6 separate regions of the Homo sapiens genome follow, and regions 1, 2, 4, 5 and 6 are each linked to region 3. The links come from fine-mapping of genetic effects on gene expression. A gene starts in region 3. Each other region holds a variant in brackets. All regions are shown on one strand. Distances are from middle to middle.

Evidence for each region. PIP is the estimated chance that this variant, and not a neighbour inherited with it, causes the effect.
Region 1: its variant is fine-mapped to the expression of SLC2A9 in blood mononuclear cells (TOPMed, PIP above 0.99).
Region 2: its variant is fine-mapped to the expression of SLC2A9 in whole blood (TOPMed, PIP above 0.99). The same link has a PIP of 0.9 or more in monocytes and monocytes after Pam3CSK4.
Region 4: its variant is fine-mapped to the expression of SLC2A9 in whole blood (TOPMed, PIP 0.95).
Region 5: its variant is fine-mapped to the expression of SLC2A9 in whole blood (INTERVAL, PIP 0.99).
Region 6: its variant is fine-mapped to the expression of SLC2A9 in whole blood (TOPMed, PIP above 0.99).

The regions. Positions count from the first base shown.
Region 1 is chr4:10,042,381-10,047,455 of GRCh38, forward strand. No RefSeq gene overlaps it. Among named protein-coding and RNA genes, the nearest start is that of SLC2A9, 23 kb to the left of the region's middle. The variant C/T (reference allele first, on the strand shown) is at 2,803.
Region 2 is chr4:10,061,911-10,066,985 of GRCh38, forward strand. It overlaps LOC124900665 (a long non-coding RNA gene), which reads left to right and starts at 2,104. Exons shown (of 2, transcript XR_007058029.1): 1 at 2,104-2,184. RefSeq lists an enhancer at 1,433-2,047. The variant G/A (reference allele first, on the strand shown) is at 2,339.
Region 3 is chr4:10,019,509-10,024,583 of GRCh38, forward strand. It overlaps SLC2A9 (solute carrier family 2 member 9), which reads right to left and starts at 1,989. Exons shown (of 12, transcript NM_020041.3): 1 at 1,772-1,989. The coding sequence starts at 1,921. RefSeq lists an enhancer at 1,471-1,970.
Region 4 is chr4:10,204,656-10,209,730 of GRCh38, forward strand. No RefSeq gene overlaps it. Among named protein-coding and RNA genes, the nearest start is that of WDR1, 90 kb to the left of the region's middle. The variant C/A (reference allele first, on the strand shown) is at 3,127.
Region 5 is chr4:10,108,374-10,113,448 of GRCh38, forward strand. The region is part of intron 2 of WDR1 (WD repeat domain 1); the gene reads right to left. Among named protein-coding and RNA genes, the nearest start is that of WDR1, 5.9 kb to the right of the region's middle. RefSeq lists a silencer at 3,212-3,506 and an enhancer at 4,950-5,075. The variant A/T (reference allele first, on the strand shown) is at 2,451.
Region 6 is chr4:9,983,189-9,988,263 of GRCh38, forward strand. It overlaps SLC2A9 (solute carrier family 2 member 9), which reads right to left. Exons shown (of 12, transcript NM_020041.3): 4 at 2,481-2,605. It overlaps SLC2A9-AS1 (SLC2A9 antisense RNA 1), which reads left to right and starts at 4,935. Exons shown (of 4, transcript NR_183862.1): 1 at 4,935-4,956. The variant G/A (reference allele first, on the strand shown) is at 2,091.

The sequences.
Region 1 (5,075 bases), 23 kb after region 3:
TAAGATTAAGTCATAATCAAACAGGAAATCTGAGCAGATCTATAACTAGTGAGGAGATTGAAGCTGTAATCAAACAGCTCTCAACAAAGAAAAGCCCAGGACTAGAAGGATTCACTACAGAATTCTACCAAACATTTAAAGAACTAACATCAGTTCTTCTGAAACTCTTCCAAAGAACTGAAGAGGAGAGAACACTCTCAAACTTATTCTATGAGGACAGAATTACCTTGATACCAAAACCAGACAAAGACACAGCAAGAAAAAAACACTATAGATAAACCCCTGATTAATATTGATGCAAAAATCCTAAACAAAATACTACCAAACCAAATTCAACAGCATGTTAAAGGGATCATATATCATGACCAGGTGGGATTTATGCCTAGAATGCAAGGATGGTTCAACATATGAAAATCAATCAATGTAACAAAATGGAGGACTAAAACTGCCTGATCATCTCAATGGATGCAGAAAAAAATATTTGACAACATTCAGCCCCCTTTCATGATAAAAAAAACACTGAACAAACTAAGAATAGAAAGAAACTACCACAACATAGTAAAAGTCATACATGGAAAACCCACAACAGACATCATACCCAATGGAGAAACACTGAAAGCTTTTCCTCTAAGATCAGGAACCAAGCAAGGATGCCCACTCTCACCATTATTATTTGACATAATACTGGAAGTTCTAGCCAGAACAATCAGAAAAGAAAAAGAAATTATTAAAGACATACAAACCAGAAAAGAAGACTTAAAATTATTTCTATTTGGAAATGACACAGTCTTATATGTGGAAAACCCTAAAGATCCTACCAAAAAACTGCTAGAATGAATAAACAAATTTAGCAAAATTTCAGGATACAAAATCAACACTCAAAAATCAATTGTGTTCCTATACACTATCCATGATCAATTGAAAAAGGAAATTTTTAAGAAAACAAGTTCATTTACTATAGTATCAAAAAGTATAAAATACTTGGGAATAAACTTAACCACCAAGGTAAAAGACTTGTACATGGAAAACTACCAAACATTGGTGAAAGAAATCAAAGAGGATACAAATAAATGGAAAAACATCCAATGTGCTTTAATTGGAAGGATTAATATTGTTAAAACGTCCATATTACCCAAAGCAGTCTACACATTCAATGCAATCCCTGTCAAAATCCCAACTGCATTTGTTGCAGAAATTGGAAAAAAATACTAAAATACATATGGAATTACAAGGACCCCAAATAGCCAAAATGATCTTTAAAAAGAACAAAGCTGGAGGACTCACACTCCCTGATTTCAAGACATAATACAAAGCAACAGTAGTGGTACTGGCATAAAGATGAATATATAGATCAATGGCAGGAGCAGACAGCCAAGAGACGAACCCCTGCATTTATGGCCAAATAATCTACAAGAGTTCCAAGACCACAGAGTGAAAAAAGGATAGTCTGTTTAAAAAATGGTGTCAGAAAACCTGGATATCCACCTGCAAAAGAATGAAGTTGGACTTTTCCCTTGCAGCAGATATGAAAATCAACTGAAAATGAATCAAAGACCCAAATGTAAGGCCTAAAACTATTACACCCCTAGAAGAAAACATAGGAGAAAAGCTTCAGGACATTGGATTTGGCAATGATTTATATATGACACCCAAAGCACAGGAAACAGAAACAAAAATTGGCAAATAAGACTACACCAAACTCAAAAACGTTTGTGCATCAAAAGAAACAATCAACATAGTGGAAAGGCAACCTATGGGAGGAAATAATTGCAAATTATGTATCTGATAAGGGATTGCTATGCAGAATATATAAGAAATTTCTACTACTCAACAACAACAACAACAAACAAATAAGACAATTTTTAAATGGGGAAAGGACTTAAATAGACATTTCTCCAAAGAAGATATGAGTGGCCAATAAGCACATAAAAAGATGCTCAATATCACTAATCATTAGGGAAATGCAAATCAAGACCATAATGTATTGTCACCTCATCCATCAGGATGGCCACTATCAAAAGAATGGAAAATAATAAGTGTCAGCAAGGATGTGAAGAAGTTGGAGCCCTTGTGCACTGTTAGTGGAAATACAAGACAGAAAACAAAATACAGAAGTTCCTCATAAAATTGAAAATTGAGTTACCATATGATCCAGCAATCCCACTTCTGGGTTTATATCTAGATGAATTCAAAGCAGAGTATCAGAAAGATATTTGTACATACATGTTTTCAGTACAGCATTATTCACAATAGCCAACAGGTGGAAGCAACCTAGATTCCCATCAACAGATGAATGGATAAAGAAAATATAGTATATACATAACATAGACTACTATGCAGCCTTAAAAAGAAGAAAATCCTGTCACATGCTACAACATGCAACAATTTCAAAGACATTATGCTAAACACAAAAAGCCATCTGCAGAAGAACAGATACTGTAGGGATCTATTTTAACTCTATAGTATCTAACATAGTCAAAATTATGGAAACAGAAAGCAGAAGGGTGGTTAACAACAGCCAGAGGGAAGAGAGAAGGGGAAGTAGCGTCTAGTGGATATAGTTTCATGGTTGCAAGATGAAAACATTATAAAGATCTGTTGCACAATAATGTGAATATACTCAACACTACTGAACTGTACACATAAAAGTGGTTAAGAAAGTTTATTTTATTTTTTATTTTATTTATTTTGTATTTATTTATTTATTTATTTATTTTATTTATTTATTTTTTTTTGAGACGGAGTCTCGCTCTGTTGCCCAGGCTGGAGTTCAGTGGCGTGATCACGGCTCACTGCAGGCTC[C/T]GCCTCCTGGGTTCTAGCGATTCTCTCCCCTCCAGCCTCCCGAGTAGCTGGGACTACAGGTATGCGCTGCCATGCCTGTCTAATTTTTTGTGTTTTTAGTAGAGATGGGGTTTCACCATGTTGACCAGGCTTGTCTTGAACTCCTGACCTCAGGTGATCTGCCCGCCTTGGCCTCCCAAAGTGCTGGGATTACAGGCGTGAGCCACGGCACCCGGCCAGAAGGTTAATTTTAATTTTCTGTATTTTTACCATAAAAAAGAGCAAAAAAAGTAAACACACCTTTTTATGAGATAGTCATATAAAAAGACTAAATCTCTGGGTTGGAATATCACAAAGTCCAAGTGAGGAGGTTTGAATGAATAAAGCTCACTGTCAATGCTGTGACATATTTCCACATCTCAGTAATAATTAACACATTCCATGTTGCTGACTCCAAGAATGGTATTTCATTTATGGCTCAGAAGACCCTTGAGTTTGTGGTTTCTGTAATCATTTGTCTTTGGAACTATTTCAAATGGAGAAATGCCGATAGGTCAGAATCTTCCAGTTCAAAGTGTCTCTACCTTGAGCCTGACTAATCATCTCCATCTGAATGACTATCCATTCCAAGACAAGCAAGAGACTGTTACTAGTGACCTAACTAGTACAGGAAACAATAATTTGCTGTGCTTTTTTCCTTTCAAAAATATCTTATCATTCATCACCTCATTTAATTTTCACAGCAATATGGTATATTACTCTGTTTTCACACTACTGTAAAGAACTGCCTGAGATTGGGTAATTTATAAAGAAAAGAAGTTTAACTGATTCACAGTTCAGCATGGCTGAGGAGGCCTCAGGAAATTTACTTTTTTTTTTTCTTTCTTTCTTTTTTTTTTTTGAGGCTGAGTCTCGCTCTGTCACCCAGGCTGGGGTGCAGTGGTGCAATCTCAGCTCACTGCAACCTGCGCCTCCTGGGTTCAAGTGATTCTCCTCCCTCAGCCTCCTGAGTAGATAGGACTACAGGTGAGCACCACCACGACCAGCTAATTTTTGTATTTTTAGTAGAGACGGGGTTTCACCATGTTAGCCAGGCTGGTTTCAAACTCTTGACCTCAGGTGATCCAACCGCCTCAGCCGCCCAAAGTGCTGGGATTACAGGTGTGAGCCACCGCACCTGGCCGAAATTTACTTTCATAGAGGAAGGCAAAGGGGAAGCAAGGCACATCTTACGTGGTGGCAGGAGAGAGGGCAGAAGTGCCACACACTTTCGAACCATCAGATCTCATGAGAACTCACTCACCATCACAAGAACAGCATAGGAGAACTGCCCCCATGATCCAATCACCTCTCACCAGGCCCCTCCCACTATGTGTGGGGATTACAATTCAAGATGAGATGTAGGTGGGGACACAGAGCCAAATCATATCACATGGTAAGCCATGACGTTTAGAGTTTATGCCTGTTATGGGTTGAACTGTGTCTCCTTGAAAAGATATGTTAAAGTCCTAACCTCCGGGACCTATGTATGTGCCCTTATTTGGAAATAGACTATTTACAGAGGTAATCAAGTTAAGATGAAGTCACTTGGGGTGGGCCCTAATCCAGTATGACTGGTATCCTTATAAAAAGGAGACTGTGACACACAGGGAGCTCTCCTTGTGTCGTCCATATGATGACAGAGGAAGAGCTTGGAGTGATGCAGCTGCCAGCCACAGGATGCCAAGGGCCCATGGGCACCACCAGAAGCTGCTAGAGGGAAGGAAGGATTCCACCCAGAGGCTGCATGACCCTGCTAACACCTTGATTTTGGACTTCTGGCCTCCAGCACTGTGGGAGAATACATTTCCGCTATTTGAAGCCACCTGGTTTGTGAGACTTTATTACAGCAACCCTAGTGACCTCATCCAATACTGCTTCTGTTTGCTCCATCTGTGACTGTGATGAGCCACTGACACTTTAGCTTCTCCCAAGTTCACCAGCCCTCTCTGTTCTCCTCTTTTAAGCCAGATCCCAGATTTTACCTTAATATCCACCCTTACTCTAAAGTCTTCTGCCTCCCTTCCTTCTTCACAGTTTTACGTCAGCATTCCAAGCCGAGATGGCTCCAACTCTCCACTTTCTCTTCTGCCTTGTGGACAGGCCAGCCAGGAAGATGGATTCTGTGATGGTTTAATGTGATGGTTCTGTATGCATCAATATGCTTGGACTACAAGGTGCCCAGACATTTGGTCAAACACTACTCTCAGCATTTCTGTGAAGGTCTTTTTGGATGAAATTAGCATTTGAAGTAG
Region 2 (5,075 bases), 42 kb after region 3:
TCACAATCTGTTTGCTCCTCCATTCTCCTGTTGATGGACGTCTAGGTTGATTCCAGTTTGGGGCTATTGAACAGTGCCGCTCAAATGTTCCTAACCATATCTTTGGCTGGGCATAAATGCTCCATTCTCCTGTATATTCTTAGCCATGGAATTGATGGGTGCAGGATAGGCATATGTCTAATTCTAGTAGATGCTGCCAAACAGTGGAAATCCATATTTTTAAAATTGAAAATTATTTGTAATTGACACATAATAATTGTACATATTTATGGGACACATATTATATTTTGATACATGTAAACAAAGGTATAATGTTCAAATCAGGGTAGTCAGCATATTCATCACCTCAAATATTTATTATGTCTTTATGCTGGAAACATTCAAAATTCTCTCATATTTGAAACCATTATGAAAACAAATTATCAACTACAGGGCCATAGAATGCTATAGCTTATTCCTCCCATGTAGATGTAATTTAGTAACAATTAACCAACCTCTCCCTATCCTCCTCTCCCCATCATCCTTCCCAGCTTCTAGTAGCTACAGTTCTACTCTTTACTTTTCTTTCTTTTTTCTTTTTTTTTTTTTTTGAGATGGAGTCTCATTCTGTCACCCAGGCTGGAGTTCAGTGACGTGATCTCAGCCACTGCAACCTCTGCCTCCCAGGTTCAAACGATTCTCCTGCCTCAGCATTCTAAGTAGCTGGGACTACGGGTGCGTGCCACCACGCCTGGCTAATTTTTTGTATTTTTAGTAGAGACGCGGTTTCATTGTTAGCCAGGATGGTCTCGATTTCCTGACCTCGTGATCTGCCAGCCTTGGCCTCCCAAAGTGCTGGGATTACAGGCATGAGCCACTGCACCCAACCTATTCCTTACTTTTATAGGCTCAACGTTTTTAGCTTCCACATACAAGTGAGAACATGTGGTATTTACCTTTCTGTGCCTGGCTTATTTCACTTACCATATGATCCAGTAATCCCACTACTGGGTATATATCCAAAGGAAAGGCAGGGAAATCCATTTCCCAAAGAGTTGTCTGCACTCCCATGTGTATTGCAGCACTATTCACAATAGCCAAGATATGGAATCAACCTGTGTCCATCAACAAATGAGTGGATGAAGAAAGTGTACATACACCTCGGAATACAAATTTGACCACGAGAAAGAATACAATCCTGTCATTTGTGGCAATGTAGCTGAGCTGAAGGAAATCCGTATTTTTATAAGTCGTTACAGATAGGGGTGGTCTTGGACCACACTTTGAGAAATGCTTCTTGGATAAAAGCCCCATTATATGGACAAATATATTTCCTTTAGTCCTCAGTTCAAGTAGAGAAGGGCTTGTTTATACGGAGATACCAGCTAAGTGATTTGGGGAAGTGGGGAGAATGAGAAATCAACTGAGTGCCACCCATTAGCACCCCTTCGGAACAAATTATTGCAATTTACCTCTTTTGCCCAAGAGAAAGAAGCTGAGAACAGAGAAGCTTTGATAGGATTTGATAGGGAGAGTGAGGCGCCAGGCCACCGTGTCCAGTTAACCAAGCCTCCTCCCACCCTGGCCATGAGCTAGAATAATGCTCATGTATTTGCTGGTTAAAGGAGATGGCTTGGGGACCTGGGTTATCCCTGCAGGGAGCAACTATCTCCTCTGCTCATCTTAAACAAGATAATTGCAAAGCGGTTCCCTGCCAGCCCATCCTCTTAACAAAGAAGGTGAGATAAAAGAGATGGCATTCCTCCTGCTGGGCCCAGCAGGCTTGACAACCAGTGCCAGTCATGGGGAAAATGTCCCTTTCAGCCAACTCGAGATCTTTCAAAACAGACCCAGGCAGTTTCTTTGAGGGCTGAAAGCCAGGAAACGGGTTCCTGTTGGCCGAGGCTTGGAAGGAGGGCCTGCCTGGTCCGTTGGCCCATACCAGGCTTCCTTAGCGCCTCTGCTAGGAGCCAGTTATCCTGCAGGCTGACTCAGCCTCTGCCCAGCCATGATCTGAAGCTGCTCTCTGCTGTTTTAAGCTGAGCACTGCAACCAGGGACCTCAGACACCAGAGACAATGCAGGCCTCCAGAAAGCAGGAGAAGGACTTCTAAATCAAGGCTGGCAGGAGGAATGGGAAATGGGCATTCAAGGACATGGCAGTATGCTATGCTCTGTACATCAGGACCTCATGGAAACCAGAAAGGTAGGATGATAATTCCTATCCATGCCAGGCTGGACCTCATGTCCCTCATCGGGCTCCCACAGCTGTGTGAGCATTCTTTACCAACGTGGCACTTCTGGAATCCCTTGTTTACCTTCTTCTCCACTGCTCTATAAATGTAGTGAAATTTCCAGGT[G/A]TGGTGGCTCATGTCTGTAGTCCCAGCACTTTGGGAGGCCGAGGTGGAAGGATCACTTGAGCCCAGGAGTTTGAGGCTGCAGTGAGCTATGATGGCACCACTGCACTTCAGCCCAGGTGACAGAGTGAGACCCTGTCTTTAAAAAATAAAATAAATGCAGTGACACAAGACAACCTATGTCTGTTTTATTCTCAAAGCTGCGTGTGTCCCCAAAGCCAAGTGAGGTGTCTGGGCCTAGTTAATGACCAATGAACATTGGCTCTGAAGGAGTGAAATTACACCACTCGGGCATATTGACACTAAGTTAAAGCCACTTGAAAAACAGCAGGTGTGGCCGGGCGCGGTGGCTCATACCTGTAATTCCAGCACTTTGGGAGGCCGAGGCGGGAGGATCACGAGGTCAGGAGATCGAGACCATCCTGGCTAATATGGTGAAACCCTGTCTCTACTAAAGATACAAAAAAAAAAAAAAAAAAATTAGCCTGGCGGGGTGGTGGGCGCCTATAGTCCTAGCTACTCGGGAGGCTGAGGCAGGAGAATGGCGTGAACCCGGAAGGCAGAGCTTGCAGTGAGCGGAGATCGCTTTACTGCACTCCAGCCTGGGTGACAGAGCAAGACTCCGTCTCGAAAAAAAAAACAAGAAAAAGAAAAATAGCAGATGCAAGAAGATCACTCTGACCTTCATGCCATTTGTTAAAAGCAAAAGATGAGATCCCTATGTGAAAGATGCAACAGTCTTATTCTCAAAGATGAGAAGCTAAGATGGAAAGAATTCTGTACCAACCTTGTGCAAATAACTCTTACCTTTTAAGCCTCCCCACATCATTTAGTTGCTTCTTCACAACTTACTATTATTTGTCCAATTCAGTATATCTGACTACTTCTTCAGGACTTTATTTCCTTATGAGGGTACCTGTGCTACATAAAACTTGTATTTAAAAATGTGCATGCTTTCCTCCTGTTCATCTGTCTTATGTCAGTTAAATTCTCCAGCACAAGCAGGACCCTAAGAGTATGGAAGTGGAATTTTGCTGCCCCTACAGTTGATTACATGAGTGAATAAATGATTGAGTGAATTTTGAATTATAACGAAGAAGCTAAATATCTCAGTCATGGTTTTTCTTCCTAAGAAAATTAATCTGTTAAGATCACAGAGTTGTAACAACAGCAACAAAAACCTAGCTCTTTAAAAATAAAAAGGAACTCTTTTCTGAATTAGCAATGTCCGGAGAGATTTTTGGTTGTGACGACTGGGGCAGGGGGTACTACTGGCATCTAATGGGGGCCAGGGATGCCGCTGACACCCTGCAATGTACAGGACAGCCCCCACACAAAGAACTGTCCCACCTGAAATGTGAGTAGTTGGTTGTGCTGAGGTTGAGGAAGCCAACTCAAGGAAGTCACCTGCCGGAGGGATGCTGTTGACACTGCTTGCTACAGCAAAAGCTGCTGCTGAGAATGTGCTCCAGTTGAAAGCAAAGACTGAAAAACTGAAAAGAGCCAGGCGCGGTGGCTCACACCATAATCTCAACACTTTGGAAGGCTGAGGTGGGCGGATCACTTAAGGTTAGGAGTTTGAGACCAGCCTGGCCAACATGGTGAAACCTGTCTCTACTAAAAATACAAAAATTAGCTGGGCATGGCGGCATGTGCCTGTTAATCCGAGCTACTGGCGAGGCTGAGGCACAAGAATTGATTGAACCTGGGGGGCAAAGGTTGCAGTGACCTGAGATTGCGTCACTGCACTCCAGCCTGGGCAACAGAGCGAGACTCCATCTCAAAAAAAAAAAAAAAAAAACCAGAAAAGAAAGGAATAACTGAAAAGAGCAAGAGCCACTTAGAAGCCAGATATGGTGGTGCGTGCCTGTAGTCCCAACTACTCGACAGGCTGAGATGTGATGATCCCTTGAGCCCAGGAGTTTGAAGCTGCAGAGAGCCATGATCGCACCACTGCACTCCAGCCTAGGCAACAGAGTGGGACCCAAGAAGTTTTTTTAAGCCACTTAGAGAAGGTTTTACAAGTTACATGAGCAAAAGCTAAATAACTAGTACATCCATGTGCCATAAAGTGAAGAAACGGATGAGGTCTCTATGGGACATGTCAGCTAAACCCAAGAATGTGTTTGTTTCTTGTGGCTGAGACAGTGATCAAGGCAGCTTTCCTCCCAGGGCAAAGACTGTGGTTTGTTTGCGGCCATTTAATTTGGCAAAACCTGAGTTTTGATGAATACTTTGCAATCTTCAAATAATATTCATTTTGTTTCCAAATCCAATGAACTAGAGGCTGTAATTGAAAGAAGAAGAAAGGGAGGGAGGTAGGACAGAGAAAGGAATAGAAAGAGGGAGGGCAGGAAGGCAGCCATGAAAGAAGGCGTAATTGTCAAAAATCCAAGTTATTTGAGGCATACTGCTTGACCTGACTTTATGCAGTACAAACAAAATCAGGGTAAGCTAGAATTCAGAAGACAATGGTACCACTGTGTTTCTCTCTGGAGCGTTCTCAGAAGTGTGACCTTTTCTAATCCCAAACTGCTTAAAAAATGATGTCTCCTTGGGGTGCCATTTAGATTAATCTGTGATGGGACCAGAAGCGAGCTAAGCTGATGATTCTAATTCAATTGCCAGTGAAATGGTGTCTGTCTCCATCTGTAAACGTCCTCATCCTGCTCTCAATGGGGCCACATTGACGGCTGCAGCCAGCATTATCCCTTACAATCCTTTTAATTTTTTGGCTGCA
Region 3 (5,075 bases):
GTCCTGTATTACAGGTGAGGAAAGAGGGGCAGGGAGCGTGGCTGGTGCTGTCTAGGATGGGGACTGAAGTCCAGGTGGCCTGGCTGCAGTGCCCCTCTAGTCACCACTGCACTGTCCCCTGCTGACCCGTCACCTGAGTGCCGTTGTCCAAGGGCCTGAGACTGCCGACAGCCAGACAGATGTGCACACACGCTTACATGCACATACTGTTCCAGTCTGAGGCGTCAAACTACAGGGGCTGGTCCAAGCCTCAGGACAAGGACCTGCAGACGTAGAGATGCAAGGTTTGGCACAGAGAACAGGGCGCCTGCCTTGGTGTTGTCCTGCCCTGCAGCCCCATCTAAGGACAGCCACCACCAGTACAGGGCCATAGGGCAGAAACACCTGGATCCCTGGCAAAGGCTGACAAGCTGGCATGAGCCAGGGCAGGAGGGATGGCTGTCCTCAGCTGGTCAGGGAATACAGGCCAAGTGGACAGGGGCCAGGTGCTCCGGAAGGCACCTTCTTTGCCATCATTTGACATATTTGTGAGTGTGTGTGTGTGTGTGTGTGTGTGTGTGTGTGTTGTAGGCGCCAGGCCCTGACAAAGCTGTGGGGGTGCAACAGTGAAGAAGACATATGGATCCATGGTTCAGGGACCCATATCAGTCAAATCCCGTCTGGAAGGGAATGCGGGTCTCTTGATGGCCACTTACCTGCTCTGCCAGTCTCGTTTGTCTCCTCTAGTGCCACCAGCCACGAGATAGAGCTTTGGGGCTTTGAGCCAAGTGATATCAGCTTTACCTCCAGGGCCAGTCCCCTCAGCTGTAGGAGTCTGAGCAAGTGACTTGACTTTTCTGGGGCTCAGCTTGCCCACCTGTGAAATGGGATCTTAATAGCAGCACTGGCCACATATGTTGTTGAGGAGCCTGCTGCAGAGGAGGTGCTCCGTAGAGGCTGCTGATCACATGCGGGGGCAAGAGGGAACATTTATAAGCCTTGGGGATGGGTGCTGCCAATTGAAATGTAGTACCAGAATATTTTTCTGCAGTGAGAGGAGCTTGAGCTGAATGGGGATCCCTGATGGAACAGAATCACATTTCAGATGAAACGCCTGTTCTCTATCACTCTTTCTCTTTAAACCTATCCTCTGAGTCTCGGCACAGATACCACTTCTTCTGAGCCCCTGGGCTGTGCTGGGCATCGTTTCTGTGCTCTGTGCCTTCTTTGCTCCCAGCCCCGATGACCTTAGAGGACACAAACTCCTCCCTGGTCTGCACCCCATCAGATTGGGAGCACCTGGTGTGAAGTGCCCCTGCCAGAGGCTGGTGAAGGGCAGGTGGGGGCCATCTTCTCCTGCCTCAGCTGTGCTCCCCGGAGCCCCCTGCCTGTGTGGCCCGCCTGTGCCCTCCACCCGCTCCCCACTCACTGCACGGGCAGAGGGTGCCCACTGACCGACGGTGCTGCTGCCCGTGCCATGCCCTGGGGAGGGTGAGAAGAGGGACACCACCATGCAAGTGCGGGGCAGGGCAGCCTGCCACCATAGCCTCATTCCATGTACACACCCAGTCTACCAGAGACGCTGTTGGCCCAGTCAGCTGGGGCTTGGAGAGAGCATGCCAAAGTCACACAGATGGAGAAGTGCAACTCAAACTGAGGCCTCCCTGCCTCAAAGCCCCAGATCCCCCAGCTACACGCTGCCAGGCTGGGGCTGAGCACTGTCACACGGCTGCCACCCAGGCCTGCCTTCCCCACAGCCCGCCAGCCATGCAGAAAAGCTGTCCGTAGTTACCTTTCTTCTCCTTCCACCTGGCACCCCACTCCTCAGGTGGTCACACTCCAGCAGTGCCCTCCCTGGCCCTGGAGGCCCGGCGTGGCTGGTGTCATCTGTGAGGGGAACTAGGCCCAGTTCCTTGGAATTCCTATTTTGTTTCCTTGCCATGGGTCTCAGTGACCCAGCTGATGGCTCAGTCCAGGGACCCCAGACTCTGCCAAGGCATTTCCGTGAGTGAGGAGGCAGAGTCCACTGGAAGGAGGGCGGGAGTTCCTGACAGGAAGTGTGGCAATTTGATCATGCCTGAACAGGCAACGGGGCAACATTTTTTTCTCTGCTCCTAAGTTATTACAGCAATGAAACAGTCCAAAAAGGGAAATCTGTCCTCTCCAGGATTGCCACCCAGGGGGTGGAATTTTTTTTTTTTTTCTTAGCATCTTTTTATTTTTCTCTGGTAACAAAGCCTGGAGCAGGGTGACTGCCATTAACCTAGGATACCTCCCTAATGCTTGGAACAGAATGGAGAGGTGGCTGACTTTGACTCAGAAGCCTGCATACAGCTCTGCCCCTGACTCTTCCACTTTTTTTTTTTTTTTTTGACCGAATCTTGCTCTGTTGCCCGGGCTGGAGTGCACTGATGCAATCTCTGCTCACTGCAACCTCCGCACCTGGGTTCAAGCAATTCTCCTGCCTCAGCCTCCCAAGTAGCTGGAACTATAGGCGTGTGCCACCACGCCTGGCTGATTTTTGTATTTTTAGTAGAGACTGTGTTTCACCATGTTGGCCAGGCTGGTCTTGACCTCCTTACCTCAGGTGATCTGCCCACCTCAGCCTCCCAAAGTGCTGGAATTAGAGGCGTAAGCCACCATGTCTGGCCAACTCCTCCACTTTTTAACTGTGTGTCCTCAGGCAAGTCACTTTATTCTCTGAGCTGCAACTTCTACCACTGCAAAATGGAATATTGACCCCACTCTGACTGTCCTGCAGACTTATTCTGAAGCTCAAATAGAAAACAGCCAGCCCCAAGTGGCGTGCTGTAAATGAGTGTGGGCTCTCCTGTAGCCTAGAACAAAGGCGAGGGCTGTGGGTTTGGAAGAAAAAGAATTTGCCTCTTAGTCGTTACTCTGTCCTGCTCATTCAGCACTGGCTGAGGGGACATGTCCTGTATTCCAGCCCCAGGCTGGCTCAAGGACAGTACTGAGAAGGCAAGGGCCTCATGCACACCAGGAGGTTGTGGGAATCAGTTCATCACATGGCCATGTTGCCTCAGACGCCAGAGAAGCACCTTCAATTTTGGCTAGAACAGTTTGCTCCCAGAAGCAGAGAGCAGTGCAGAGTCTGGGCCAGAGCCAGGGACAGGCTTGGTGAATGCAGAACGTCCAGGAGGCAAGGTAGGGCTCAGTCCACAAAAGAGAGATCGAAAAGTTAGCAAAGTACGTTTAGTAAAAAGCACACAATAAAATAAAAGGTGTGGAGTACGGCAGACATTCCAGGAACCTGGAATGTGAAACGCACGTGGAAACGTCCGGCCCTGACATGCACGGTGGTGGGAATGTGGCTGCTCAAAGCAAGTGGGGAATCAAGACTTCCAAAGAGGAAAACCACCCTCAGGAGTTAGGTTGGGGATGTATTGAGCACGCCAGTCATTCAGTGCAATCGTCCTTCTGTGTGTTAATCAGTCAGGCATGCCCCGGGAGAAGTGGCTGTTTCTTGAACTGGATTTCAGCTATGCAGCCTGGTTTCCTCATTGAGTGGTGGGCCTAGAGCAGCATTCTGATGTGCAAATCCTTAATTATAACATGACCTAAAAAGGCGGAGGATTCCCCAGGACAGTGTGGAGGAGGCACCACATCAATCTCAGCTGGATCTTGGAGACCCCGCTGGAAGAGGCGGCTTCTGAGCGGACAGAGAAGGATACGGGGTGAGAGGACAAGGAGCCAAGGCCTGCAGGCACAGATGCCTGCAGTGTGTGGGAGGAAGTGAAATTGTCAGTGAAGCATGGTTGGGGCCTGAAGTACAGGAGATGGGCAGAGGAGGGGCAGGGACAGCTGCATCCCTGTGCATGGAGGGCCCCTCTGCCCCTATGCTGTCCTGATAGGGACTGCATTTTCATCATCTCATTTACCCCTCCTCATCCCATTGCTGTGACTCCCCTCTCTATACCCTCCCTGTTTCCTCATCTGTAACAGTGGGGACCTCACCAGATTTTGCTAAAGCTCAAATTGGATCAGGTGTCCCCTCATCCCGTTAAAAATTGCTTCGTAGTCCTCTGTTGGGTTTGAAAACTCAAAAGGAACCAGAAATTAGGCAGTGGACATGAATGTGCAGCTACAGCTGGACAGAAAGTAAAAGAGCGGAGATGGGTCCCTCCCGGATCCAGATGGTAGCTAACCAGGGTTCCTGGTAGCCACAGCACTTGCCTCACCTTCAGCTCCTACTACATGTGCACAGCTCATGTTACATGTGCACAGGGCTTTCCCAAGTGTGTTCACCTTCATGATATCGTTTAGTCCTCAGAGGAACTATCAGACCTACATTTCGGGGCAACTGAAGTTCAGGGGGAGCATGGAGGAGCCTGCCTCCAAAGCGAGGGCTGGTTCCCCATTCCACAGGGCCATCGGCCCTGCACTGCAGGCAACTGCTAAGGAAGCGACTCCTATCACAGATGAAGTCATAAGACAAACATCCCCAGATGTTCTGGGCTGGGGCACGTTCTGCCTGCTCTGACACTCACTGGTTCCTTCATTCAGTCATTACTTGCCTGTCTTTATGAAGCTCCTACTCATTCAGGTTCTCCTGACCTTGCTCAGGCCCTCACTTCTGACTGCCCTGAACTGTGCTCACCCTTCAGCACTTAACTCTCTCGCCACCTCCTCCCAGCAGCCTCCCCAACCTCTCGCTGCCTCTGTGCTCCATGTGTGCCTTCCCCTCTGCACGTGTGCTGCTGCTCACGTGTGCCTTCCCCTCTGCACGGGAGCTCACTGTGGGCAGGGATGGTGTGCGTCTCAATGGGCTGATTGTGTCCCCTCAGATTCACATGTTGAAGTCCTCACCCCAAGTACCTGACAATGTGACTGTATTTGGAGATAGGGTTTTTGAAGAGGTAATTAAGGTTAAATGAAGTCATATGCATGGGGCTGTATTCCAGTATGCCTGGTGTCCTTATAGGAAGAGGAAATGAGGACACAGACACACACAGAGGGATGACCACGTGAGGACGCAGGGAGAAGGCAGCCACTTCTGCCAAGAAGGGAGGCTTCAGAAGGAACTAACCTGCTGACACTCTGAGCTTGGACTTCTGGTTTCTAAGACTGTGAGACAA
Region 4 (5,075 bases), 190 kb after region 3:
TTTTAGAATCCTTCATGACTTGTCCCTTCACACAAGTTGTACAAATCTCTTCATAAAAAATAACTGGCACTGTAATCTCACACCATGGGCAGTTCTTCAGGGACCAAGGCTCATGTGTGACTGCTGCTCAGTGACCGAGCTTGTCCTAGAGCCTATAATATGGTAGCAGTACACTTGGAAGTGACACCCCATCGCCAGGTGGCTGCGTTCCAAGTGTTGGCAGCTCACTGACAGTGGGAGTATGGGAGCCTGTGGGTGTTTGCTTGGGGCACGCATTGGGGCAGGCAGGATGACTGTGTCCTGCTTTGTGTCCTCTCTTGTGAGGCCTCTTCTAGGTGGCTCTGTTCCATGTCAACATCTGCCTCAACTTCTTCCGAGACAACCGTAACCTTGGATAGTAAACTACATTACCTCTCATTCTAGTTCTTTACTCTTTCACTCAAGAATGCTTTCAAGTCTCAAGTTTCCCAGTTCTTCAGAGGCTTAAAGGCAACCTTTAGCTTGAGGAATCCAACTTAAGGTTTTAGGAAATGACAGATGTAAATGTAAATAATCCCAAATGCATGGCAATGTCAAACTTGCAGCTGAGATCACCTCACAGTTGGAGGTGTACATCTCATTCCATCTGAATTCAAGCAGACATACATTACATACACCAGGAGAGTTATGTGGAGGTACATACAGAATAGTCAGTGGCACTTGGAACATAATAGCTGACTGTACTGGCAAATATGAGATGGCTGTGTGCTCACACGGACCTGACAGTTGACCTTTCATCTTATAAAATGTATGACTCACAGTCCATCATTGGTCATTTGGACAGTCACACTTGCAAAAAGGTTCTGGGTACTTATTGCCATGACTGTGTCATTGTTGGCAGGTGTATGGGGTCAACTTGAAGGCTTCTGGCCTACCCATGAGTAAGATGAAGTACATCCTTAGGGGGAGGCATCTGGACTACCCTTTGGAGTGGAAACCAATTATTACCCTAGTCGTAATGCCAAAAATCCTTGTTTCCTGCCATATTGAAAAGCCTGATGAGAGGACCTTTCTGTTAGGGAAGGGGGATATGCACTTGTGCATAGTTTTTCTAGTGGGTGACTTAAGTGCTCCATTTTCTCTAGCCATTCAGCTCTGCCTGAGCTGATCTTCAGGAATTTCTATTGCCATGTTAGACCAGACATTGCCACCACAGTTGTATGAACTCCCTCAAGGAGAGAGCACTGAACTCTTCCAGGGCGGACAACTCAGAAGAGCCACTTCAGGAGGATCCATCTCTTCAACCTAGACATTTACCCCTTGTCCACCTGACTCTTTGTAATGACTTCTGGATTCTGTTCTCAGCTGTGCTGGGAATACATCTTGATTTGGCTAGGGTAAAGGCAAGCAGGCACTTGCACGTCTAATTTCTGGCCTCTGGTCAGCTCCAGGTGTTGGACCTGGGCCCTGCAGTATGTCCTGGTGAAGCAGGTTAACTGGTGGCAGTCTTAAAGGTAATGGGGGAATTGGTATGCTAGGTTTTGGGCTGTCACTGCCTTCTGCTCTATTCCCTTGGCAGAGAACATCATCATCACGTGGGACAGTTCTTAGTCCCCTTCACTGATGTTCCTGGTAATGCAGTTGTGCTTGGGAGTTAGAAGCCTGCTGTCCCTGTTCAGTTTCTACTGACAATTGTTTAAATCTGGGATTTCCATGTTTTTCCCCTTGACTTCTGGAGTTCACTCCTTGCCTCTTGGCTTCTTCATAGTCAGAAGGGGAAGCTTGATCAAGAACAGCTTTTCTAACTCCTAGTGCTGGTCAGTGCTTCTGCGGGTATTCTCAAATGCCCTGTATTGTGCAGAATCCAGACGTTTTTCTTACGGCATACAGTAGAAACACTAAGGCCAGAACTGTCTTTGTCCCGGACGTCTTTGCTAACGTAGGAATGCCTGCATGGGAAAGAGAATGGTGTTGCACGGTTGGTGATTAGAATCCTGTGTGTAGAAAGCTGCCAGTAGCTGTGGGATTGAGTATCCTACACTGTCGCAGATGGCAAGGGGCCCAGTGTGAGGTGGGGGATGACGGGAATCTGAGCCGCCTGGTTTTCTAACTTAAATCTGGCCTTTCTGTACAAATACTTTATAACACTGTTTCTGTGCCTACTAGAACGTTTGCCTGGATGGGACTTCACAGCACCTAGCTCATACTGAGCAGTTATAAACAGTTACCTGATGTTTCATGGCCAGGAGCTCACTTTCTAAGGCCCAGTAACATGCTTAGAGATAGCTAGTAGAAGGCTTATCTGAAAAAGGTGCAGACTTAGGCTAGTATATTAGGGGTGTGCAATATACCTTTTGCTATGGAGTCTGCTAGAGAGCACCCGTGACATCCTCTCCTGCCTTGTCTCTTATGGGATTACATCCATGGTAACAGCTTAGACCAAAACTAGCTGTGGAGCCCTCATTTTCTTGGAGTCCTCCTCAGAACTTTTAGCCATTTGAGCCCAGAAAAATGGTTTGGAGTAGTCGAGTGTGACGTATGCTTTCTCTGAAATCCAAAAAATCCTACCTATTTTGAAAGTACACTTCATGGTAGGAGAAAAAGATGCAAGAAATTCTCCCATAATTTCAAAGTTGGAAGTAACGTCCCTGCATTCCTTAGATAACTAAAAACATCAGTGATGTCACTGAGCCCCTGGGCTTATAAGTTTCTCCCTGTCTCTGGCGCACAGGTGTTCTCCAGGGTACTTCCTACTTTCCTGTTGCCCAGGTCTGACTTAAGTGATACCAGTAAGTGACCCAGCAGGCTCTTCTGGGGAATGTCAGCATAATTGAGACCTCTGCAAATGATATTGGGGCAAAGATCAGGAGAGTTACCTTGAGAGTGAGACTGAATGTATACTTTTTCCCATTAAAAAGAAAACTGATAGTGGACCCTCAATGAGGATGAATGAGAGAATGTATTTTTCCAGAATGGCACTAAATGCCAGAAGAGGTAGTTATTCACCAAGATATACCATAAGTTGCATGAAAGCCATAATACATACTTCATAGTACACTCCCATCTGACATGGGACTCCAGAAGATTAAAGACCAATTTCAAAAATGCAGTCAAATATAGAATGACATCCCTTCCATACTTAAAACT[C/A]CAGAATAGGCACATGAAAGAAGATCCCTGCCCCACTGATTTACTCAGTTTGAACCAGTGATCAGTGAGGCTTTCTGTGTTTGGCATTCTTCTGACCCCAAGTCCAAGTAACAAGTGTTTCAGAGGGACCATTCTAGGACTGTTTTGAGCCCTTGGAGCAGCTGTCCCAACACTTTGGGGGCAGGGTATTTTTACTGGTATAAAAACATTCACATAGAAATCCAAGTTTCTCTAGAAGTGGTGTCCTAGCCCAGGATGCTGTCTAGATGAACAGTCGAGGAGTGACCCACTAGCTTCCCTTAACCAGTGCCCAGGCCTGTGAGATGCCAGGAGCAACCACAGGGAGAGATGGCAATGACAGCAGCAGGACTTCTTGTTGGGTCTGGTGCCTCATGAACATGCCACATATCCATCCACCACCTCCAGTTGGGAGAAATGTCTTGCCAGAAGTAGGTCCTTCTGCCAGTCTTCACACATTCTTCATAGCTAGAATGACTTAGAATGCTCAAGCCAGTGATGGAGGGAAAAGGCAGAGCCTAGGAATGAACACTCCAGAGCTTAGGTTCAGTAAGCCACCTCCACTCAATGTATGCAAGTCTTATCATAGGGCTTGAAAAAGATAATTTCAGGGGGAAAACTCACTGGATGTTTTTCTAACTTCTATGATCTTTGATGTTACCTGATACTTGTATTGCCCCAATATGATCTGCAGGTGTGTTGATTATACCCTGGTATGCAACAAGATCTTCAAGGTACCAAGTCACCTACATTCATGCCCAGAAGCTGTTGCAGACTCCAGTCTTCAACTCTTCCTTAAATTTCTGTCCCTTATCCTAATGTTGATTGCCACAGAAATCACTGAAGCTCCATTCACACCTGTCCCTACTCAGACTGTGGCAGACAGGAATGGAGATCAAGTTCACAAGTCTACCTGTAGGATTGTATGATGCTTGGGAGGTTCAGGATGCAGGCAGCATGTTCTTAACAACAGTCCTTGCCCTTTACAGAGCAGACAGGTGAGTGAGGCTCTCTAAAGAGCAACTGTTTGCCATGAGGAGGTAAATAGTTGACTTAACCCCTGCAAGATATGAATTGATCCATACCACAGAATGGTTTCCTTAACTCCCTAATGTCCTTGTGTTATATTACCCTAATCTGTGTGACATTGTAGAAATGTGGATGGTGTTAATGTCACTTGCCGTTCTAATGCTGTTTCTCGGACTTGGTATCTCCTTAGTTTACCTGATCTGTTGCTTGATACTTGAGTTAAAGCAACCCTAATCCTAGCAGAAAAACCAACTTAGAGGTGAAAGTTAAGGATTTTTAATGGTAGGTTTGTGAATTTCCCTCTAAGGGAAGATACAGAACTTTTCTGCCTATTTCATATTTAACCCTTGATTACAGATCCTAGGTAGGCTGGGCTGGATGGGAAAAAGAGGTCCTGTGGTGTTTGGGGCAGCTGGTCATTGGATTTCTGCCAGCAGAGATGTGTTCTTGGCTGCGGGTTCATTAAGGGTCCTGCAAAGTCCCAAAGAGAGCACAGGGGCAAGAGGGTGGGATGGGGGCAGCAAGGGGTCCTACCTGGGTCCTGGCTGATCTGGAGTGATGGGGACTGGGATGTGAGGTCCACTTGCCAGGATTAGATGCTTCAGACTTGTGAAGGGAGACAGGATGGGGAAGGGGACCTTCCTTGGCCAACCTGTCAGTGGGTAAGGCTGAATCACTAAAATCACTGGACAAATGTCTCATGATCAAAACGAATGTTGGCAACTTTATTTTTCCAATAAAGCTTGAATATTAGGTGCAATAGTGATAGGTTTTCTGGTCATAGAATGATCTAAAGAGAATCATAACACTTTCAATTCTCTCTGCATCTTAAGTCTTCTGTTCTCTTTATTACTTGGACTTGGGCCGTGGTTGAAACCCAAGAATCCTCCTGTTAGGTGCCT
Region 5 (5,075 bases), 89 kb after region 3:
CATGCTAGAAGGTTGGAGATACCTGCCCAAGCAAAAAACATTTCAGCAGATGACGACACAACACTGATGAAGGGGCCTGCTGTGCCCTCCTTTAGCTGCCAACTGTCCCCGGGAACCCCAGAGAAAGTCTCAGGCGTCCTCCATGGTCCACCCAGGCCAAGTGAGCGTGAGCTTCCAGTCAGGGCACTGGCTTTGTAAATACTCCAAGTTCCTGCAAGCAACAGAGGCTGAAAGCTGTTACTGCTGTAACTGACCTGTGCAAATATAACTGGCCAGGGCCCTTATGTTCACTGGTGACTACAACTAAGGCCAAGGCTGAATGACAGCAAAAAACCTCAGCTCCAAAGCAGGAATGTAAACTTCTGCGACAACACAACGCCTTCTCCTAATTATCTTTTAAGGCCCAGGCAAAGGGCTTCTCCTCCAAGCAGCCTTCCCTGATGCTCCAAGCTAGAAATCATCTCTCCCACCCTGAACCCCCACCTTCCCTGACTCCCACCCCACTGCCCTCACTACTTTCCACCTTGGACTACACATCATTTGTGCCCCACCTGCCTTCTGTACTACGTGGACACCAGAGTGGGGAAGGTTCACACTTGATTCACCATAGCAGCTGCCAAATACCGACAAAGACCAGAACTTGGCTGGAGCCTGGTAGCTGTTTATCAAGAAACAAATCCCCACCGGCCACTTACTATTCACTCTCAGACAGGCCCTGGGTGGGCCCCTCAGTGGATTCTCTTTGAAACCTCACAACACCTGCTGTAAGGAAGGTAACCTCATAATCCCACATGACAAAGAAACCAAGGCAGACACTGGGCGATACGCCCCAGGCCACCCAGCTGTTAAGTGGCAGCGCCAGACCTGAACTCAGGGCCAGTTGCTGACTCACCTGGGTTATGAGCATATAACTAACAGCACGGTGAGTCAAGGGAGGTAACAAATGCTCAACACCTTCACACAATCCCAGGTCACGTCACTGCAAATCAGGGACCATATGTGGCGGCCTTTACTCCTCCCTGTGGTTTTGTTGTCTTCCTTACGGTTGGTCTCAATGTTAGTGTGATTCTTTAATACAGAGAATAAAGTCTGCACTGGCCAACCAGCTGTGTGCTTCCAAACAGTGTACAGGCAGCTCCTTGAGCTGGCTGAGGACGGGGTGGTCACTCACAGGCCGCCATGCCCTGAACGACTTTCCCCTCCTGCCTCCCAGCTCAGCCTCAGATGCCTTGAAACAGGCCTGGGGGTACTCACCGTGTGGCCCTGCACAGCAGCACCCCTCATTGGACTACGTGTGAGCGGGACACCACCACCTCCGTTTTCAGTCTTCCCCTCTCCTACTCCCCACCCAGGGCCCACCAGGGCCTTAACTGATGAGTTGCAAAGGTAGACCTGGGGGTGGCTCCCAGGGTTCAAATTCCAGCACCTTCCAGAGGTTCAGCATCCTCACCTCTCAAAAGAGAGATGAGGGTATCCACCCAACAGGGCAGTCATGAAGACAAGAGCAGAGGTCCCTGCCAGGGCCCAGACAACCTTCTGAAGATGCTTTACGAATTAGCTCCGTTAAATCTTACACTGATCCCATGATAACATTCCTCCCACTCTCGCAGGCATGGAAACAGAAGAGGCAAGCACACCAAGTTTCAGCCACAGACCAGCACAAAATACACTCAACAAAGAACAGAGAGGTGCTCAGGGGTATACACTGGATTGGACAGTGGGGCGGGGGTAGGGGTGGGATGCTGGCCTTTCCCTGGAGAGCAGGCAGGACCCATACGTAGAAGTGACAAGCAAGGTGACCAAAGCTAAGGACCCACAGGTCTAAGGAGCAGGCACATCGCCAGGGCAGGGAGTGCCTGCCCATCACTGAGACGGCGAAGAGACGCACACAGGGCCCTTTCCTGTGTCCACAGCTGTCCCTAACAAGGGCCTTGCAGAAGGTGGAGGTCACTCTCCAAAGAAGCATCTCCAACTACTCTTGGGCAAGGCCATCTCTCCAGTAGTCTTACGCATGAGGCTAAACCTCTTCTCTTACCTCAAAGATGGCTTCAGTATCCCTCCCGTTACCTCCAACAGGGCAAGAAATGTACCAAAAGCAACACACAGGAGGCCACAGTGGGGCTGAGAGGACCCAGGTACACATGCTGTTTCCTGCCTGGTTTCTCCCCACCTCTGCCGTGTGTCTCAACGCTCCTCCTGGAGAACTCTTATTCATCCTTCAAGACCCAACTCAAATGTGGCACTTCTCCAGCAGCTGTCCCCGCTCTGTGGCACAGCTGGCTCCTCCCTCACATTCCCAGAGCACCCAGGGCATTGTTCTTTTGAAGCACTTAACCTGGTGCCTTCGAAGGTTCTTTACCAGAGTTTTCAACCTTGGTACCCCTGGCATTTGGGGCTGGACAGTTCTTTGTGGAAGGACGGCCATGTACCTTGTCGGATGTTTGGCCACA[A/T]CCCTGACTTCAGATACCAGTGGCACAAAAATGTCTGCAAACGTTGCCAGATATCCCTCAGGGGAATGAGGTGGGGGAAATTACCCCTCCCTGAAAATCACTGATTTTAATCCTGGTCCTCTGTGGCTTAGGGTATGGCTTGCCAAGACAGGGGCTTAGTGAACATGTGTGGGAAACGTGAGAGCCAGAGATGGCTGCACCACGCAACGGAACCTGCGCTGACGCCGCCTTCATCTTTGAGCAGCTTCCTAATTGGCTTCCCTGCCTCAGATCTCAGATACAGAACTTCTCCTTACCGTAGGCTGGATCTGATTACTTGTCTGTGAGACCTCTGAATGGCTCCAGTGGCCTTCAGAGCAGGGCTGCGCTATGGTAGGGCTGTGTGAGCCACCTGCCACCACTGCACACCAGCACTTCTCAGCCTGGGTCCTGTCCACTCCCCTCACGCTCAGTGCCACAGTAACAGCCCATAAGCACCCGGCCCTTCGGTCCTCCCAGATGTGGTCCCATCTGCAGAAGCCCAGCGTCCTGACTGGCACCTGCAGCCACTCAGATTCTCCTGAGATGAAGGCCCCCCACCACCCTCTGCTTCCCCTGCCATCAGGTGGTCAGACTGAAGGCCTAGAGGTTCCTGGCTCTGCACCTGGCAGGCGCTGCTGCCAGCTCGTTTGCACCCAGGTGATAATCCAACGCACCACTTCCTTCTGCCACCTAGAGTTTATTTCACTCCCACCCAGGACAGTGAGCTCCATGTGGGCAGGGCCTCCATCCTGCACCCCCACAGGCCAATGGCCATCTGGATACACGCAGGTAGTCAGCAGGCGTCCAATTCCGGAGAAGCAGCTAGGTCAGTCCTCAAGCCCTCTGTCATGCCACCATTACCCCCAACCCGCAGGAAACACAGGTGAGTCCTCTGCATGTGAATGGTGGCAGCTCACACCAAGGGAAACCAAGAGTGAGCCCAATACCCTCCCCAACCCCCCACTTGGTCTGCCCCCTGTTCAAGGAGAAAAGTCCACTGATACTGCGCCTGGGTTCCCAGCAGTGTCAAATTGCTATAAACCTTGCACTCCCGGAAACTCAATTTTATAGACATCATTTTTCCAAATGTGTATTTTAGTTCTGGAATCTAGGAACTGGATACTTTAAAAACCAGGCCCCAAACTTGCCTGCATAGCAAATCTGCTGGCTGCCTGGCAGCACACAAGAGGGCCTCTGTTGTGAGGCAAAAGTTGCTTTTTTTTTTTCTTTTTCTAAACAGGGACTACTGGCACTACTGGCATTTTAGGCTGGGTAATTTTTATTGTAGGATGGTCCCGTGCCCTGTTTAGAATCACAAACAGGTTCGTTCACAGCCATTGGGGGTGACCCTTCCCAGTCTTTGCACAGAGGTCATAAGAGGCAGAGGTGATGCAGGCAGGGTAAGGAAACTTAGAAGGAACCACCCCAGACCTAAGGAGGTACCAGCACCTGCAGGAAGCCTTCCTTAGACCCCCGAAGCACAGACTATCCATCCCTTCTCCGTGGGGAACTAATGTCTCTCAAACACAGTGTACATATGGTTCACTGGAATCCCCTTCTTGGAGCTCTCTCCTTCTGGAATATTAGTTTCTACATGGCCACCATTATAGTCTTTCACTCTACAGAGGAGAGTTGCCTCTCCAGGTGAGGCAACGAGATGTGTTGAAATAAACAGGTAAGAAACACCCTTTTTCTACAAGTTTAAGAAGTGCCATTATGCTGGGTTCACAAAACAGCTTTTAAGTCAACAAAATAAATGACAGAGGGGGCTCCAAGTGCAAAGCTGGCAACGGTGCTCGCCTCTTAGGTATGAAAGGCGATTCCACAAAATTTAGGTCCGGCAATCTACACTGAGCTGAGCTTTCCTTGTTCTCATGCAGTAAGACCTCAGTGGCTGCCTATTATCTTCACGACACAGCCTGGTTTTCCAGGCTTTTTAATCAATGAGTAACTCACTGAGCACCTACTGTGTGCCAGACACTCTCTTAGGCGAGGACACGGCAGTGACTGAAAGAGAGGGGAAAGCCCTGCTGGCCTGGAGCTGATGCCCAGTTAGGGGGACAGGCAGATACCTATGTACACTTGTAGGCAGCCGTAGCCTGCTGCTTGTTAGCTTGCTTCCTACTTATTGTCAGCAATGAGAAAGACAGAAGGCCGGGGATGGAAAATTCTATTCCGGGGACACCCCTCTACTAAGGTGACTACATCTAAGTATAAACCAAAGGGAAAGGCCTAGTGTGGTGGCTCACGCCTGTATCCCAGGACTTTGGGAGGCCAAGGCGAGCGAGCAGATCACTTGAGGTTGGGAGTTCAAGATCAGCCTGGCCAACACGGCGAAACCCCGTTACCTACTAAAAAATACAAAAATTAGCCAGGTGAATTGGCACGTACCTGTAGTCCCCACTACTCGGGAGGCTGAGGCAGGAGATTTGCCTGAACCCGGCAGGTGGAGGTTGCAGTGACCCAAGATCACGCCACCGCACTCCAGCTTGGGCGACAGTAAGCCTCCACCTCAAATTAAAAAAGAAAAACCAAAGAGAAGACAGGGAGCAAGACTTGCAGCTATCTGAGAAAATGTCCAGGCAAAGGCAATAACTAGCAGGT
Region 6 (5,075 bases), 36 kb before region 3:
AACAAGGGAGGCCTTACTGCTAAGTTGCCACGCCAGGTGGGAAAGAGGCCAAGACTGTGAGGTCAATGGTTGCTGCAGTGGTCCCTGATTTGTACCCCCTCCCTGGATCGACATCCTTGGGGAGTTAGTCCTCTCTGACATTTATTCTGCACGTGGCCATGGGACTTGCTTGGGCCAAAGGGACACCAGCAAACGTGCATGCAAAGTGCTTGCACATTGTGCACATTGGGACTTTCTCCTTTGGCTGCTGTTGGAAGCCCAAGAACTTTATGCAAGGCAGCCCAGGCCCCCCTGGCCCAGGGTGGGAAGCCAAGAAATGAGCTGGCCCACTGACAGCCCGTGAGACCAGGCCACCTGCTAACACCCAAACACAGGCGTGAGACCATCCCAGGTCATCCAGCCACTGACCAACCTGAAGCCACCGCAGACACATGAGAAGGCCCAGCAGAGATTGGCAGAGCTGGCCCAGAGCAGAACTGCCCAGCCGACCCACAGAAGTGAAAGCACAGGAAAATGGTTACTATTTGAAGCCATTAAGTTTTGTTTTGTTTTTTAAGAGACAGGGTTTCGCTCTGTAGCCAAGGCTAAAATGCAGTGGTGCCATCATGGCTTAAGTTTCGGGGTTTTTAAATACATCAAACCTAACCTATACAGATAAATTAATGAAATTAATGGAAGCAAGTGAGAGCATTCAGGCAGTCTGACTCCATAGTCTTCACCCTTAACCACTTTCCTGCTCCAGCTTTCTGAGCATTAGGGCCCCCATTTGTAAAATGAACATGAGAAAACAGTCTTTCATTACAGGAGGAGATCAAAAAAAATGAAAAGCATGAACACAGTTGGTCAGTTATAAAACATTACATAGACACCAGCCATTATTCTTATGGATAAACTCTCAATAGCCATCAATAGAAGGAGTCTATTCAAGTAGTATAGACAAATGAATAGACAAATGATTGAGGAGTCATTTCATCTTGAGTTTGGACTATTAGAGAGGCCTAGATTATTCCCCTCCAGCAGGGCAACAAAAGTAAGTGAAGCCTCCTCTTCTCAACCTTACTTCCAGGCCCCCACTCTCCTGCTCACCTCTCCCTGAGACATTTTTATTGTTCATCTCACTCAGCTGAACAACCTGGTACCCTCAGCTTTTAAGACATCGACAAGGAAGGGAATTAGCCTTTAAGAAGCTCATGCTAGGTTCCAGGCAGTACATATGTGTATATGTGTGTGTGTGAGAGAGACAGAGAGAGAGAGAGAGACAGAGTGTGTGTTTCCGTTCAGCCTTATTATAGCCTTTTGAAGTAGGTATTATTACCACCATTTTACAAATGGGAAAACCAAGGCTCAGAGCCATTAAGTAACTTGCAGCAGAACTGAGATCCAAACTCAGGGATTTCTAATCCTAAGGCTTGCAATCTTTCCACAAATGCCTAAAAGTGATACTTTATGGATTTGCCTATTTAGAAAGAGAGCAGCGTTTGTCTGACAATATATCTTGAGTCTCCTACTCTCACTCCCATAGCCAGCATCTGTCCCCTTCTCTGCAGCTCCCCACCTAGCCCAGTCCCTTCCCCTGAACAGCTGGCTCCTCTGATTCCACTCCTGGCTTCCCCTCATACTCCATTACTGGAACAAACCAGTCCATGTCACATTCATCTCAACCCTCCCTGCATACTCGGCACAGGCACACAGTCCTCGCCGTGGCCTACAAGGTCTTATGTGATCTGGCCCCAGCTCCTCTTTGGCGTCATCAGCACCCACACATCTCCTTGCTCTTTCCCAGACGTGCCATGCCTCCTTCCGCCTCTGAGACATAATACTCTTCTCTCTGCTGGGAACAGTTCTCACCCTTGGCTCCTCTGGTCTCTGCTCAGGTTTCCTTCTCTGAGCAGTCTTCCCTGATTGGCCTTTCTAAAACAGCCCTCACCACCCTCCTGTCCTGCTTTGTTTTCTTCCTAGGACATGCTACTGTCTACCTTATGTATCTGTCTGCCCACTAGAATGTAAGCTCCAGGGACAGGGTCTTGTTAATCATTGTGTCTCCATCCTATAGTGTGCCAGCCCTCGCAGGTGCTCTACAAATGCCTGGC[G/A]AGTAAATGAAATAACGAATGAGTCAGAGGCCCAGAGAAGAAACCCCATCCTCATAAAAGCCCCATGAAAACCACAAATAACCTTGGAATATTAACATTATGATGAAGGTGACCAAACAGAAGGCATGACATGCTGAAGACCATCCAGGTCTTTGGGGTAGACTGCGGACCCTGCCCAGCATTCCTCAATTAGGGGCTAGAGCATCATGAATGGGATGGTTCATCCCACAGGACTGTCCCACTTTATGCAGAGTTCCAGCATCCTTGGTCCCTGCCAAGTCAATGCCAGCAGAGAGCCCCAGTCATGTGACAGCCCCAAACACTTCTCACATTTTGGGACACCCCCAAGGAGTATGTTACTGTTCCCTCCCCGTCATGGTGAACTCTCACCTCCATCTATGCCCATGATGAAGCGTCCCACGATGAGCATTTCAAAGGCTCCTGCCTGGAGCGAGCAGGCCATCAGCAATGCAGCAGAAATTGCAAACCCATTATTGGCCAGCAAAGTGTGCTTCCTGGAAAGAAAGGAAAGATTTGATGAAGATGTCTAACCATGAGGCATGTCACTGAACTGTCCATCCCAGGAGCAGGAGCCAGGCCCTTCTGAAGGGTGAGTAGAGCAAGACTCAGGCACAGTGCAGGGAGCACTGGCCTTGCCACCTCTGGCTGTGTGACTGGGTTCAGCCCTGGGGTCTACTAGGTCACTTACAAAGGCACCATCAGCCTTGACATCTATGAATTCTCTGTGGTAGTATTTTATTGCTTTAATTCTAAGACTATCATTTAACATTTCTGAAGTCAGTGGTCATCTTACAATTCGTGAGTCAGGGTCCAGGCAGGAAAATGGAAACCACTCTAGGTATTTTAATGGAGAGAATTTAACATAGGGAATTGGTTAAGTGGATATTGAAGAACCGAGATGTCAAAAAGGAAGACCTCTGAAGAAGGGGTGTTTCCCATGTGGTGCTGACACCTCAGGGGCATGGAGGAGGGCCCCGAAGACCTTTGAGAGTGGGCACTGTCCACTGGACTGTTTCCTCTGAGGAGCAATATGATTCTGGTTCTGGAAATGGACAAAAGTTGGAAGCTGGAATCAACTGCCAATGTCATCACTGGGACTGGCAGGAAACTCAGACAAACATGAAAAAGCTAGTCTTTTCTCTCTCCTCTAGTGCCCCTATTGGCAAAGGACAAATGGGGGTGCAGGCCCCAGCCCCAGCATCAGAGAGAGAGAGCCCAGAAGGGTAAGTGTGGAGCTAGGAGACAACAGCTTGACAACCAGCATAGCGTTCTACAACTTTTGTTGGCTCCTTCCCTCCCTCCCTCCCTTTCTTCCTTATTTCCTTTCCTTTCCAGTGGCTCATAAAATAACAATACTCCTCAGACCCAATGGCATCTTAGATTTGATGAACTACAGTACTAAGTGAATGGCTGGACTAATCCTCTCAAACAAGATTAGGGAAATTTCCATGGCAATAATTATTATTAACAGCTCTGTGTCAGGACTGCCATCACTTTTATAAACACATGCCTAAGACCTCATGGTTCAAATACCTGACTTGTTTGGAGGCCTGGGGACCTGGATTCCTGCACCAGCTCTATCCTTCAGGAGCTAGGAGACTTTGAACTTCATTTCTCTGTGTTTTCTTTTCCTCACTTTTGCAAAATGATCCTAAAAGCCCACATTTATTGAACTCTTGCTATAGGATAGACCCTGCTTTAAGTACTTTGCATTAGTAGCTCATTTAATCCTCAGAATGACCCAAAGAGATAGGTACTCTTATAATCTCTATTTTATAAACAAGTTAACTAGGTTGCTGGCAAGCTAGAAACTTGTTTTATTTTTAATTTTTATTTTTGAGACAGAGTCTTGCTCTATCACCCAGGCTGGAGTGGATTGGCACAATCTCTGCTCACTGCAGTTTCCACTTCCCAGGTTCAAGTGATTCTCCTCCCTCAGCTTCCTGGGTAGCTGGGATTACAGGCATGCACCACCACACCCAGCTAATTTTTGTATTTTTAGTAGAGACGGGGTTTCACCATGTTGGCCAGGATGGTCTCAAACTTCTGACCTCAGGTGATCTGCCTGCCTCAGCCTCCCAAAGTGCTGGGATTACAGGCGTGAGCCACTGCGTCCGGCCTAGAAACTTGTTTTAGGTCATATAGTCAGTGAGTCAAGGAGTTGGGGAAACATCTTAGCCCTTTACGGCTTATTTTTTTTCCTATAGACTCAATGAGTTAACAGATATTAAATTGTTTTGTAAATTGTGGTTAAAAAATTATTTTGCCCAATAGAGCCCCAGTGGGTCTCTGATCTTAGAACTTGCGCTCTTCCCACCAGCTAACATTGCCTCTTGTCATAAATTATGGGACTCAGTTATGGCAGATGCTATTATACTCATTATATAAAAATATAAGTTTTTTTCTCTAAACCAGCCTCTCGGGAGACTGGGGCAGGAGAACTGCTTGAACCCAGGAGGCAGAGATTGCAGTGAGCCAAGATCATGCCACCGCACTCCAACCTGGGTGACAGAGCGAGACTCCGTCTTGAAAAAAAAAGAAAAGAAAAAGAAAGAAAGAAACATCAGTGAGGCCAGCCTGGCTGGAGGCAGTAGGGAGCCAGGGAGCAAGCAGTAGAAAGTGAAAGTTGAGAAGAGAAAAGAAGAACTCAGAGAGTCTTCTATGCCACCATAAGAACTAGCGTTTCCCCCCTGGGGGAGATAGCAGCCACTGGGAGATTCCAAGGAGAGGAATGACACCGGCTAATACTTGAACAAGATCACTACATCTTGTCTTCTCTGTTGCTCCTGGACTGCAGGGGACAAGTGTGAAAGCAGGGAGACCAGCTGGGGAGCTACCACAACAGGTGAGTCAACCACTGGTAATGATTTGGACCAGGCTGGGAGCAGTGCACTTAGTGAGAAGTGGTCAGATCCTAGCATATTTTGAAGAGTGAGTTGGTGGGATTTGCTGATGGACTGGACA